Linked DNA regions of Homo sapiens: regions 2 and 3 are each reported to be linked to region 1. Evidence: microRNA targets listed by miRTarBase, many of them from high-throughput screens and not tested one by one. Region 1 holds a microRNA gene; each other region holds the end of a gene's coding sequence.
What was found. Region 1 holds the annotated microRNA hsa-miR-6870-3p (GCUCAUCCCCAUCUCCUUUCAG, at 2,622-2,643, shown strand). A microRNA usually pairs through its seed, bases 2 to 8, with sites in the 3' UTR of a target mRNA and lowers its output. Matches are read on the target gene's strand: a 7mer-m8 pairs with bases 2 to 8, a 7mer-A1 pairs with bases 2 to 7 and ends in A, and an 8mer does both.

Region 2: the mRNA of SMCR8 is a reported target of hsa-miR-6870-3p. Seed matches in the 3' UTR shown: 7mer-A1 at 2,590-2,596 and 7mer-m8 at 2,561-2,567.
Region 3: the mRNA of HACD4 is a reported target of hsa-miR-6870-3p. The part of its 3' UTR that is shown has no 7-base or 8-base seed match.

The regions. Positions count from the first base shown.
Region 1 is chr20:10,648,086-10,652,278 of GRCh38, reverse strand. It overlaps MIR6870 (microRNA 6870), which reads left to right and starts at 2,584; the gene lies at 2,584-2,643. JAG1 (jagged canonical Notch ligand 1) reads left to right here. Exons shown (of 26, transcript NM_000214.3): 7 at 29-148; 8 at 585-698; 9 at 1,919-2,032; 10 at 2,644-2,757; 11 at 3,172-3,218; 12 at 3,557-3,730; 13 at 4,169-4,193. RefSeq lists a silencer at 804-1,098.
Region 2 is chr17:18,322,563-18,326,755 of GRCh38, reverse strand. SMCR8 (SMCR8-C9orf72 complex subunit) reads right to left here. Exons shown (of 2, transcript NM_144775.3): 2 at 1-4,139. The coding sequence ends at 3,686. Among named protein-coding and RNA genes, the nearest start is that of SMCR8, 9.4 kb to the right of the region's middle. RefSeq lists a silencer at 923-1,032 and enhancers at 3,562-4,061, 4,062-4,193.
Region 3 is chr9:21,003,290-21,007,482 of GRCh38, reverse strand. HACD4 (3-hydroxyacyl-CoA dehydratase 4) reads left to right here. Exons shown (of 7, transcript NM_001010915.5): 7 at 364-4,193. The coding sequence ends at 446. Among named protein-coding and RNA genes, the nearest start is that of HACD4, 26 kb to the left of the region's middle.

The DNA of each region.
Region 1 (4,193 bases):
CTTAGTGACTCCAGGATCTTTTTGGCAGATCTCAATTACTGTGGGACTCATCAGCCGTGTCTCAACGGGGGAACTTGTAGCAACACAGGCCCTGACAAATATCAGTGTTCCTGCCCTGAGGGGTATTCAGGACCCAACTGTGAAATTGGTAAGTGGTCCAAGATGAATGAGAGCCCTTTGTCTAATTTTTCTGTACTCAGCTTTTAAAAAATATACTTAAGGACTTGTTTAAGGAAAAAAAAGTGAAAATAGCTTCCAAAGATAGGCCTTATCCCAACCATTCTATAAGCCTTTGTAACTTTCAAGTCTCTAAAGTTTTTTGGGTGATGCTGATTCGTATAGGAGGCAGCGGGAGATGAAATGACCCCAGCTCTGAGATGTCTTGGAATGTGGTTAGAGACAGCTCAGCGAGAAAGATGACTTCCTTTCTTTCCTAGACACAGCAGGGTTCTATCACACGCTTGCTTTTGGTTTTTGAAATATGCTTGCACTAGTGGCTGTGGTGTGGGATTCGGTTGGAGGGGGGTGTGGGGAGGTAACGGTGTGCAGGCATCCCTCTCTGACTGCCATCCTGGTTTTTGCAGCTGAGCACGCCTGCCTCTCTGATCCCTGTCACAACAGAGGCAGCTGTAAGGAGACCTCCCTGGGCTTTGAGTGTGAGTGTTCCCCAGGCTGGACCGGCCCCACATGCTCTACAAGTAAGTCCAATTTTCAGCCTGTGTCCATTCTAAGGATCCTTGTGCCAAGATACCACGCTGGGGAGAGGTACCTAGGCTTGTCCAGTGTGAATGTCTCGGTGAGAGAGGGGCGGGTGCAGGCCTAAGTCTGGTAAGCAGTCTGGTGGCTTGTGTGTTTGGAAGTCTCCCAGCACCCCCATCCTGTCCCACTAAGGTAGCGCATGTATCTGTTCTTGGAAGGAACGTCCTCGTGGAATCGCTTGTTCCTTTGCATCTGCTTCCTGGAGCTGGCCACCTTCCAATTGTGGTTATTCTTCTTGCAGCCATGGAGAGGCTGCCTTCAGGGGAGGTTGTCACTTACTACTGGATTCTGTCATAGGGCCAGGGGGCCCCAGAGAAGAACCTGGCCTGCAGAGTTCCTTTGGCTGTGAGACAGGGCTGTATATCAGAATCACCTGGGCTGCTTTACAGTGTAAATCTCTGGGTCCCCCAGATTCCCTCCAGAATCGGGGAGTCCATGGTCTTTGATAAACTTCTGGAATTCTGCAGTGCAGCCAGGTCTGAGAACCGCTGTCATCAGCACCCCAGGTGTGGTTATGGATGTGGATTTCTGGGGTCAGATTGCCTGTGCTGGTCCTAGGCCCCCACCTGTCACTTGCGGAACTCCAGCAGGCCACAGAAGCTCCCCGGGCCCTCTTTAAATGGCACAGTAGCAATTCCCATCTCCGAGGTTGTCATAAAGACACAAAAGTGAATACTTCATAAATTGTTAGGAGTTGTCTCTGGTCAGAGCAGAAGTGGAGAATGCAGCCTCTAGGTGTGCTATTTTGGGCAAACTCTGTAAGCAAATGAGAGGAATAAGGTTTTCCACCTGTAAAGAACTATTTTTCCTGACTTCTTAGCTACTTCTGAGCCATGATGAAACTTTTCTTTAAAAATAAAGATTAGGCAGATAGAGATGTCCTGTGTTCCTCCTGGGCGGATGCTCCGTCAGTATCCAGCTGTCTTTCTCCCCCACTGCTTAGGTTGGGGATTACATGAACTGGGGCAGTGGGGGATTTAAAGCTAAAATCAAGGCTTCGGCCTTATCGTCACCGTCCCACTTGTCCTGCTGTAGCTTTCCTTGTAGCAGGTGTCTGGCTCTTCAATGACAGCCCCTCATGTAAGAGGTGATGTTAAAGGATCTAATTGTCAGATGGATTGAATTAAATTGTCAACCCCCTCCTTTTCTTGTTGACCAGACATTGATGACTGTTCTCCTAATAACTGTTCCCACGGGGGCACCTGCCAGGACCTGGTTAACGGATTTAAGTGTGTGTGCCCCCCACAGTGGACTGGGAAAACGTGCCAGTTAGGTAAGAACATCCCTGTGACTGTAATTTTTATACCAAGGTTGGCTTTGATTGTCAAAGCCATTACAGAAGACGAGCGTGTGGCCGGCAGTGTGAGTTCACACTCCATCATGCTAAGAAGTAATTTATTATCAAGAGTCTAGCAGGCCTGGGAGAAATAACTTGAATGCAAATGGACTAGCTCTTTTAGGCCCTGTGGGAAAGTCGTGGGATTCCTTGAACCATGTCAATCGTCTGTCCGAGGAGTGTTCAGCTGGGTTCCAAAAGGGGATGATCTCATGAGGAATGAGCTGTCTGCATTCTTTTTGCCACATTTAAATCCCAGCAACTAGGCTGCCTGGGTTTTGCACAGAAATGCCTGGTGGCTTTCTGCTGTTTTGTTGGGGGCTGGTTAACTAGCAGCTGGAAAGTTATCAATTAGGGTTCTTATTGGATAATAGCTAGGGAGAGGGATCAGATGCTTAAAATAGAGGGAACCTCTAGTATCTTTTATTTAGCTAGCTTATTAAAATGTCTCATGTCTCAGACAAACTCTGGCCTGTTCTTTTTTTTTCCAAGGTGGGGGAGATGGGGGTTGAACTTCATTTCTCATGCTCATCCCCATCTCCTTTCAGATGCAAATGAATGTGAGGCCAAACCTTGTGTAAACGCCAAATCCTGTAAGAATCTCATTGCCAGCTACTACTGCGACTGTCTTCCCGGCTGGATGGGTCAGAATTGTGACATAAGTGAGTGACTTTGTTTCCATTTTGATTTTCATGAAACTTGGGTAGCCGACTTGCTGGTCCGTACTGGGGCTCCAGTCCTAGGACTTGAGCAGTAGAAGGAAAACCTTAGAGTGGGAATGGTTTTTTGAGAGGGAGTGGTCAGGGCAGCAGTGAAAACATACACTTTATCAGGCTCATTAGCTGCGAAAACCAGCCATATTCTGATAATGTGGCTGAAACAATGATGTGAAGTTTCACTCCCTCATTCTGGAAGAATTAGGGAGGGTCCCCACCCAGCGTAATAACCTTATCTCACGGAAAGCACACAGGAAATCTGATTTGAAACTTATCTATCCTGAGCTGAGAAGGCTTTTCAATTAAGCCCAATTTCACTGTAAATTACCTCTTTAAAATGATGACTTATTTATTTTTTAGATATTAATGACTGCCTTGGCCAGTGTCAGAATGACGCCTCCTGTCGGGTATGTAAATCTTTGCTTAAATCAAAACTTTGACAATTGACAACAAATCTTTAGATTTGTGCGACACTAGGAGAGCTCTGTCCCTGTGAGATTTAAAAATTTGGGTGAAAAAAGAGTCTCTTGGAAGTTTCGCTAGGGCTTATGTTACCCCAGCCTCGTGGGAGTCATTTTGAAGGCATGCACATAGAAATTCCTCTAACCACTTTCAGAGGTTTAGCATTTGGCTATTTCAGTGAACCAGCTAAACCGCAACAGTCATGCTAAACCGCTGAAGCCCTGTGTTTGTGGAATACATAGAAAAAAAGCATGTGTCTCTCTCTCCCCTTCTCCTCTTCTAGGATTTGGTTAATGGTTATCGCTGTATCTGTCCACCTGGCTATGCAGGCGATCACTGTGAGAGAGACATCGATGAATGTGCCAGCAACCCCTGTTTGAATGGGGGTCACTGTCAGAATGAAATCAACAGATTCCAGTGTCTGTGTCCCACTGGTTTCTCTGGAAACCTCTGTCAGGTGAGTGGTGGCAAAACCTCAGATGGCCAAGTTTTTAGAGCAGAGCCGCTGCCTCCTCCGCTTCCCTTTACTTTTCCCTCAGCTCTTGTGTCTGGAATTTCCTAACATCTATTAACATCCTATTGATGAGAGAGTCTCTGCTAGACAAATGCTGGTGGAAGGAGATACTGACGAATTATTTTCTTCTTAGTGTCTTCGTCTTTGTGTTCTTTTTGGTTCCCTCCACCCCCTCTTGTGCTCCCTCTCCCACTCTGCCCCGTTGTTTCAAATACTGGACATTGGCAGTCCCTACAGCATAGAGATGTATCTTACAGGGTGTCTCCTAATAGAAACCGAAGGAACTGTCAGATTCCAGTGCCTGCTGCCCCAGAGAAGTTATCGTGACACCTTTGTTTTACTCTGATCCCTCCCCCTTTTCGCTGTTCCTGATATTTGCAGCTGGACATCGATTATTGTGAGCCTA
Region 2 (4,193 bases), not on the chromosome of region 1:
ATGCAAGACATTCAGTGAGCAGAGGGCTGCCCTCGGCCTCCAACTGCAGCCGCCCTGGCGCGTGAAATGAAATTGGTGGGCCTTCCTAGGATTGTAAAATGGGACTTGTCATTTGTGTGAGGTTGAAATCTACTATACTTTGAATATGGCAACTGTTTTCAACCACTGAAGCAAAGAAGGTAAAGGCCAGATGGGGAATGAAAGGTAAGGTACTGTGGTCTATTTCCAAATTTGGGAGCAATGTGTGTAACTTCAACTGTTGGAGTAAATGAGTTATGGAAAAGCCACAATTTCTAAAATCCCAAGGTTCTACCAAAGGAGTGAGGTTCCTGGGGAAACAGGCATGAGGCAGCAGCTCAGGCTGATGTGTCCTGTGCGATATAAAAAGCTGTGGCCTGATCTCTAAAGTGGGGCTTTTGAAAATCACCAGTCCACAACTACCTGCCTGGCTAGTTTAACCTAGACTGCTTCAGAAGCAAGGGAGGGGGATAATGGACTGGAGAAAAAGCTGACACAAAACTCAAGACAACCAGTTTCAGTACCTGGGCCCTCAAAGCAATAGTGAGGACTGAGAAAGTAGCAAGGGGCACTGATGTCATCTATTTTCTGGGAAGTGTAATTTTTAATGGTTTCATTAAAAACTTACTAACCTTCTACTGGAAGAATACCTCAAATGAAAAATTTTTTTTTTTTGAGACAGTTTTCGCTCTTGTTGCCCAGGGTGGAGTGCAGTGGCGCGATCTCGGCTCACTGTAACCTCTGCCTCCTGGGTTCAAGTGATTCTCCTGCCTCAGCCTCCCGAGTAAGTGGGATTACAGGCACGCACCACCAGACCTGGCTAACTTTCTTTGTATTTTTAGTAGAGATGGGGTTTCACCATGTTGGCCAGGCTGGTCTCCAACTCCTGACCTCAGGTGATCCGCCCACCTCGGCCTCCCAAAGTGTTGGGATTACAGGCGTGAGCCACTGCGCCCGGCCTCAACTGAAAATTCTTGATGAGATTAGTCCCACTGCATAGGTCTCAGCACTGAGGTTTAGAGATGTGAGACTCAGAGTAGGTTTCAGTTCCCCGGAGTGAAGGGGGCATAGGGAGGGGCAGGGCTTCCCAGTGTTAACTGCCTCTGCCCAAATCATGACTCAGTCCTGGTACCACGTCAAGATCCCTTTGAAAGGAAACATACTTTGCATCAAGTAATCCTTTGAAACTGCCACATTGAAAAGTTAGTTTTTAACCCAAATATAAATCTGGGAGCTAAACACTAGTCACGAAGCCATCTTTACTTAATGAAGAACCACCTTGAGGGAGACCAGCCCTGCTTGCCACTTACATGGCTGCCCCTGAGACGGTCTGTTCTGTTCATGCCCCAGCAGCCTTTTGCCTTAGGTTTCAGGACCTTCTGAACCACCCTTGAGGGTGTGTGCCAGCAAATACCTCAAGTGGACTTCTACTTAGGACCACTTGAGGGCACAACTTCAGCTTCTAGAAGGCCAAGTGTGGCTGCAATTCAGGATCTGCCCCAAACTCATCAGCCCTTCCCAAGTTTCCCAGGTGAGAACAGTATGAGCTGTGAATTTCTGTGTTGGTGTGACAGGAATGCCACAGTGGTGGTGCCAGTGATCACTTTCTGACCTTCCTTCCTTCTCAGATAAAATGTTGCACAGTTATGGCCTTGGAGGCCTAAGTAGACAGCAATTAACCAGCCAGTGAGAAAACGAATCAGCATCTAGAACAGGAGGGGAGGGAACCGTAACAGATAAGGGAGCCCACGATTAGAAGCAGGCTCCCTGCACAGCCTCTGCCTCCAGCGCAAGTAACAGACGTTTCACATTTAAAGGCTGCCAAGGTATTGCTGGCGACTCTCCTGTCTGTGAACATGCGCAACGGGCACAGGTACAGAGAACCAATGAGATGTAGGCAGCACCATCTGCCACAAAAGGTTCTCCATCGCAGCCCCAGGAGCAAAATCAAACACCTCTGATGGGAGCAAGGACCCTGAACAGAAGCCAACGGCTGGAGCCAACGGGCCATGCCCTTAAAACGAGGACTTGGACAAGGAGGGAACCACTGGAGTGACGTGATGCAAGCCCTCTTCGGTCACTCTTGGCTTCCACCAGGGGTCTCTGCCTCCTTGATGAGAAGAGAAGCTGGCTGGCTCCATGATGACCTCGATGGCGTACTACAGGCCGATGGGCAGGCCGGGCCTCAGCAGCAGGCGCCAACAGAAGCACACCCAGGGCTGATTCAGGTCCATTTCAGCATAATTTTTGTGGAACAAATTAAAGAAGCAGTAATACCAGAGCTGTCCCCACTTAGGGAATAAAATTTTCAAGGCTGCAAGAAACTCTCTGTCTACAAACCAGTGGCCATTGCCTAAGGAGGCTCGGGGAGGCCAGGGGATCACTATCAGTGGGATAGGTGCTGGCGGAACCAGGGGGTGTCTCCTTCCCAGTTTCAAACTTGTCCTCAGAAGGGGGACTCAACTGGGGACGGCCGTGAGCTGTGGTGACTGAGGTGCACACAGCCTCCCAGAGGCAGAACCTGAAGAGCGCCACGTGGTAGCTCATCCAGGAAATCCGTGCTATTTGAGTTCTCATCGGCTGGGCCAACCACCTGCACCAGCTGACTAAACAGAACCGTTGCTGTCCCAAGCCCACGAGACCCAGTGAGAGGTAGTGAAGTGGTTGCAAAGGTTTATGTGGGTGGGAGCTGGAGTGTGGCCTCTGCCATGTTCACACGGGTCTGCAGACCTTCCCCACGAGGAAGGTCAGTGCTCATGCGCTCTGGCCGGCAGGAGCCAGTGGGCCACCCAGGAGAGCTGCTGGCTGCTCCTCCCTTGCATGGTGGTGATGGCCTCATGGCGCCTCAGCCCTGCTCTGCCTGCTGTGCTCTCCAGCCCCCAAGGTGGTCCTCACCATTGGCTTTGGTCACTTGTGCCCGCTTCACACTAGGACTAGTGAACACTCTGCTCGTTCCTGGTGAAAGAGTATGGGGAGTGAGTCCCAAGGCCCGCTCACAGGCACTTCTCTCCCAGGTAAAGGTGGCGAGGACAGCGGACAGGGTGCTGCTCACGCTCTGTGGCCCTGAGGCCAAGGTCGCATGTTTCCCACGACCCAGAGGGTGGCAGCCTTTCTCACCCCCACTGGCTGGTCCAGGGCCTCCCCTAGGACAGTGGGCTCCAGGAAGCAAATAAAGGGCTGCATCTGGGTCTGAAGGAGGCGATGGGTGTTCTGCCCTCCTGTTTTCCACCAAACCACAACAGTTACCTGGCTGTCACCCTCGTTCATTTTGCCACTCAAGTGTCCGGCAATGCTGAATACAGCCAGTGTGCTCCTCCCATCAGGCTTTGGCCTTCCTGCCCTCACCCTGCCCCACCAAGGGACTGGTGGCTTCCCTTCTGCCCTGGCTGCCAGTCCTCAGAAAACCAAGGCCCCCTCCATATCCAGGGGCCACTCTTCACCAGGGAGCCAAATGTAGCTGTCACCATCCCTCCAGACGCCTTTAGAGGGAGCCAGGCTCCACTTCTGCCCATGTCCAACTTAAAAACTACTAGGAGCCACGTGGGAACCATGCTGCCAGACACCAGAAACTTAAACAGTCCAGCTCAGGCAACTGTTTGGTCATGCCAACCCCTCCCCTCCCCATACCCTGAGTCACAGGTCTTGGTCACAGTGTCTGGGACCGACCTCAGATTTTATACAAAAAGCTGGGGACATAGTCAAACCTGAGCATGGGGTGGCTGGTCCCTGGAGATTCCTGCATGTAGTGCAGCTTCAGCAGCTCAGCCAGGTACTGGACCACCCTAACATCCTCATTCACCAGACCCAGGGTCAGCTTTAGGAAGCTCATCTGGCGGCTGGCTACCAGCTCCTCTGTCTCCTTGTCGTGGGTAGGCAGGTGCAGGTGGTGGCAGAAGGTGTAGAGGAAGGCCTTGGAGCAGAGCTGGGTGAGCATGCTCTGGACATGCAGGTAGTAGGTGCTGCCCCGCTTGATCTGTGTGCGGTGGTCTGCCAGGCGGGGCACCAGGGTGCCTCTGTAAAGGGGGCAGCGCAGGGTTTTGTTGTCAAGGTCCAGGATGCTCGTGTAGCGGCTGTAGCGGCTCAGGGCATGGAGGGTACCGGCACCGGCAGGGGAGGCCACTCTGAAACAGACAGGCCAAGGTCAGGAGGAAGGGCAAGGGCCGGGAAAGTGGAGG
Region 3 (4,193 bases), not on the chromosome of region 1:
CCAGCTCTAACCTTCACAAATCTCCAAAATAATGATTATCTCTAGAAGGTAACAGATATCAAACATATGAACAACATATAGAGAGAAAAGACAAAAATGTGAAACTTTAGAGGAAGGTGGAGAGAGCTATGCTAAAGAAAGGAAGACAATTCCTTGCATTAAAAAAAGTAGGATGGAAGAGTTTGATTTACCTCTCTTTCTGCATAAAATCTGGACACTTCTTTAAACATTCCTTCTCACATCTCCCTTGCAAGTGTCTTCTCCCTGGATTTGGGCAGCACTCTGACTGTATTTTAAAAGCATTGTTTCTTCCAGAGAAATAGTTAACCTTACTTACTTTTGCAACTTCTTTCTCCATATTAGGTATGTATTTTACCTACAGTCATCTATACTCAGAAAGAAGAGACATCCTCGGAATCTTTCCCATTAAAAAAAAGAAGATGTGAAGTACAGCATTCCAGTGTGACACGAGAAAAGACAGGCTGTGGATTCAGTGCAGTAAATAAAACACAGGAAGTATTCTGGTGGAAAAATACCTTGTATTTGATAAAAATCCATTACATGAAATAACTGCACATACCCCCAAAACTCTAGACATAACAGGCTATGTTTTTCACACATTGTATTTTTAAGACATATATATTCTCCATACCCTGCTTCACCAAAATTCCTGCTTCATTTGGATTTTATACAAGTTATACTTACATTGTATGAAGTCTGATTATTTTCCTGTAAGTTTAATGAGAAATAGGAGATTAGCTGCAATAGATTCAATTAAATTAAGAAACCAAACTTGATAACCTAAATTACATGTATTCTTTTTCACTTCCAAGTTCCCAAATAGATCTGTAGGAGAAGAGGGATGGAAAATATATTCCACAGTTGCCTAGAATAACATATTTCATAGACAGATGTCTGTCTTCAGATCTAATAATACTCACCCTAAACATTAGATATGTTTAGAAAATTAAATATCTTTCCAAGCCCTATGTCTTAGCTCAGGTTGCTATAATAGAACACCATAAACCGAATGGCTTAAACAACAGCAAACGCTTCTCACAGTTCTGGAGGCTGGGAATTCCGCTCAGGATCAAGGCATCAGCTAATGCAGTTTCTGGTGAGGGCCCTCTTCCCAGTTTGCAGATAGATGTCCTTCTTTGTCCTCACATGAGAGAGAGATCAACTCTCTTATGTCTCTTATAATGGCACTAACCCCATTCATGAGGGCTCTACCCTCATGATCTAATTACCTCCCAATGGCCCCACCTCCAAATACCATCATATTGGAGGTTAGGGCTTAACACATGAATTTTGGGGGAACACAAAGATTCACTCCATAGCATTCTGTACCTGGTCCTACAAAATTCATGTCCTCCTCACATGCAAAATACATACATTCCATCTCGACAGCCTCAAAAGTCTTAACTCATTCCTGCATCAACTCTAAAGTCCAAAGTCTCGTCTAAATCAGATGTGGGTGAGATTCAAGGTAGAATTCATCCTGAGGTAAAATTCCTTTCCAGCTTTGAACTTGTGAAATGAAACAAGTTATGTGCTTCCACAGTACAATGGTGGGACACACAAAGGGTGGACATTCCTATTCCCAAAGCAAGAAACAGGAAAAAAGGAAGGTGTAATGGGTCCCCAGCAAGTCCAAAACCTAGCAAGGCAAACACCATGAGATCTTCAGTCTTAGTAATAATCCTCTTTGGCCTGATACTCTGGCTTCAGGACCCAGTGAGGCAGAGGTATTGCCCCCAGGACTATGTTGGAGGAGGATGACCCCCATATCACCAGGCGGAAGCTGTCAGGCCTGTTGAAACCAAGGCAATGACTGCCCCTTTTGAAACTGAGAAGGTACCACTGATGTTCTCTGAATCATTGTTCCGGGTCAGTTTCTCCTTTTCTTGAAGAATAGTGTACATTCACAGCTGAATAGCTCTATGGTCCCAAATTCAAGAAGTCCAACAGTCTTCCCTCATTCTGTCCCATCTCCATTCCTTTCAATACAAACTAGCAGTGTTCCTGCTGGGGTGGCTGATTAGGTCTGTGGTTCACACCCACATAAATCTAATTGGATGACTTGTCTGCTACACTCTTAGTGTTCTCTACCAAACGTGTTTTCTTATCTTTTTGTAATGCAGACAGACTGATAATTTCCCACATCTTTTAAGTTCTGGTTCCGTTTTTGTTAAGAATTCTGTCTTCATTTTTTGTCACATTTTACTTTAAGCAGTCAAGATAAACCGAGGCACTCCTTCAACACTGGTTGGAGATCTCTTCAGTTCAATATCTAATTTCATGGCTCACAATTTTACTTTCCACAAAACACTAGAACATGAACACAATCATCCAAGTTCTTTGGCATATTATAACAAAGATCACCTTTCTTCCAGTTTCCCATAACAGGTTCCTCATTTTCATTTGAGACTTCATCAGAATGGCCTTTATTGTCCATGTCTACCAACATTATCTTCATGGTGATTTACGTGTTCTCTATGAAGATGGAGGCTTTCTCTCCCACCCTCTTCTCTTTGAGCCCTCACCAAAATCACCTCTATCAATCCCTTCATGGCAATACTGGCTTTTTCTAGCAAAAAAACTAGTACCTCAAAACTCTTCCAGTACTCTTCCAGGTACTCTAGTACCTCAAAACTCTTCCAGCTTCTATCTGTTACCTAACGTCAAAGCTGCTTCCACATCTTTATATATTGGTTATAGCATCACCACACTTCTTGGTACTAATTGCTGTCTTAGCTTGGCTGCTATAACAAAATACCATAAACTGGGTGGCTTAGACAACAAATATATTTCTCACAGTTCTGGAGGCAGGGAAGTCCAAGATAAAGGTGCTAGACAATTAAGTTCCTGATGAGGTTCCAAGGTGCTAGCTGATTCTTCTTCATGGTTTGCAGATGAATGCCTTCTTGCTATATGTTCACATGGTGGAGGGAGAAACCATCTCTCCCTTATTTCTTATTGTAAAGGTACTAATCCCATTTATGAAGGTTCCAGCTTCAAATGCCATCACACTGGAGATTAGATTTTCAACATGTGAATTTAATGGGGGACACCAGCATTCAGTCCCTAGTGCTCTGATAGAGTATTCATTAATGTCATGTATTTGTTAACATCTTGTAAGTTATTTGGGCTTTGATGCCTTAAAAGAAGACCCTGGCCAGGCATGCTGGCTCATACCTGTAATCCTAGCACTATGAGAGGCTGAGGTGGGCAGATCAGTTGAGGTCAGGAGTTCAAGACCAGCCTGGCCAACATGGTGAAACCCCATTTCTACTAAAAATACAAAAATTAGCCAGGCATGGTGGCGCATGCCTGTAATCCCAGCTACACGGGAGGCTGGGGGCATGAGAATCGCTTGAGCCCAGGAGATGGAGGTTGCAGTGAGCAGAGATTGAGCCACTGCACTCCAGCCTGGGTGACAGAGTGAGACTCTATCTCAAAAGAGAAGACCCTAATGAAAATAGTAAACCTTTAGCAAATACACAAATGATGCCCCATTCTGTATTCTTTTTAATTTTAAAAATAATGACACACACATACAGGAAGATAAAAGGTATAAAAATATACTAAGTACTTTTTAAAAAGGAAAATTCATGTTTTGGATTATTACTGAATTGTTGCTAATTACTGTAATGTAAGTCATATGTCCTTACATAGTTTTGAAAAATGCTTTCTTTGAAAATCTAAAAAAAGTGTGAATAACTGATAGTCATTGCTGTATCATTGATGTATCACTCAATTTTTGGTAAAGAATTATAAAGATCTTACCTAGAAACTATGTAAAAAGGTATTAAATATATTGTGATGTAAGAATAGGATAATAAAAATGTAATTTTAAAAATGGGTAACTTATTTCCACTAAAGAAAACATTTGGAAAGAAACAATTGAGTATTAGGCTACTTGAAATCTTTATAAATATATTTGGATTTTAAAAAATTATCCTTTTAAAAAGCTACATTTTTTCTGCTTTTATAGTTATCTTCTAAATTTCAGAAAAATTATGAAAAGCTTTAGTGTGCAAGGAGAACATAAACCCTTTGCAAATTTTAGGTGAGTTAATCTTAATCACTCCAAATAAAGATGGCTCCTTACACTGCCGAAGTACATGTACAATCAATCACTAAAACAAAGAGAAAATTAGAGAAACTACACTTTACTGGGTCATTATAAT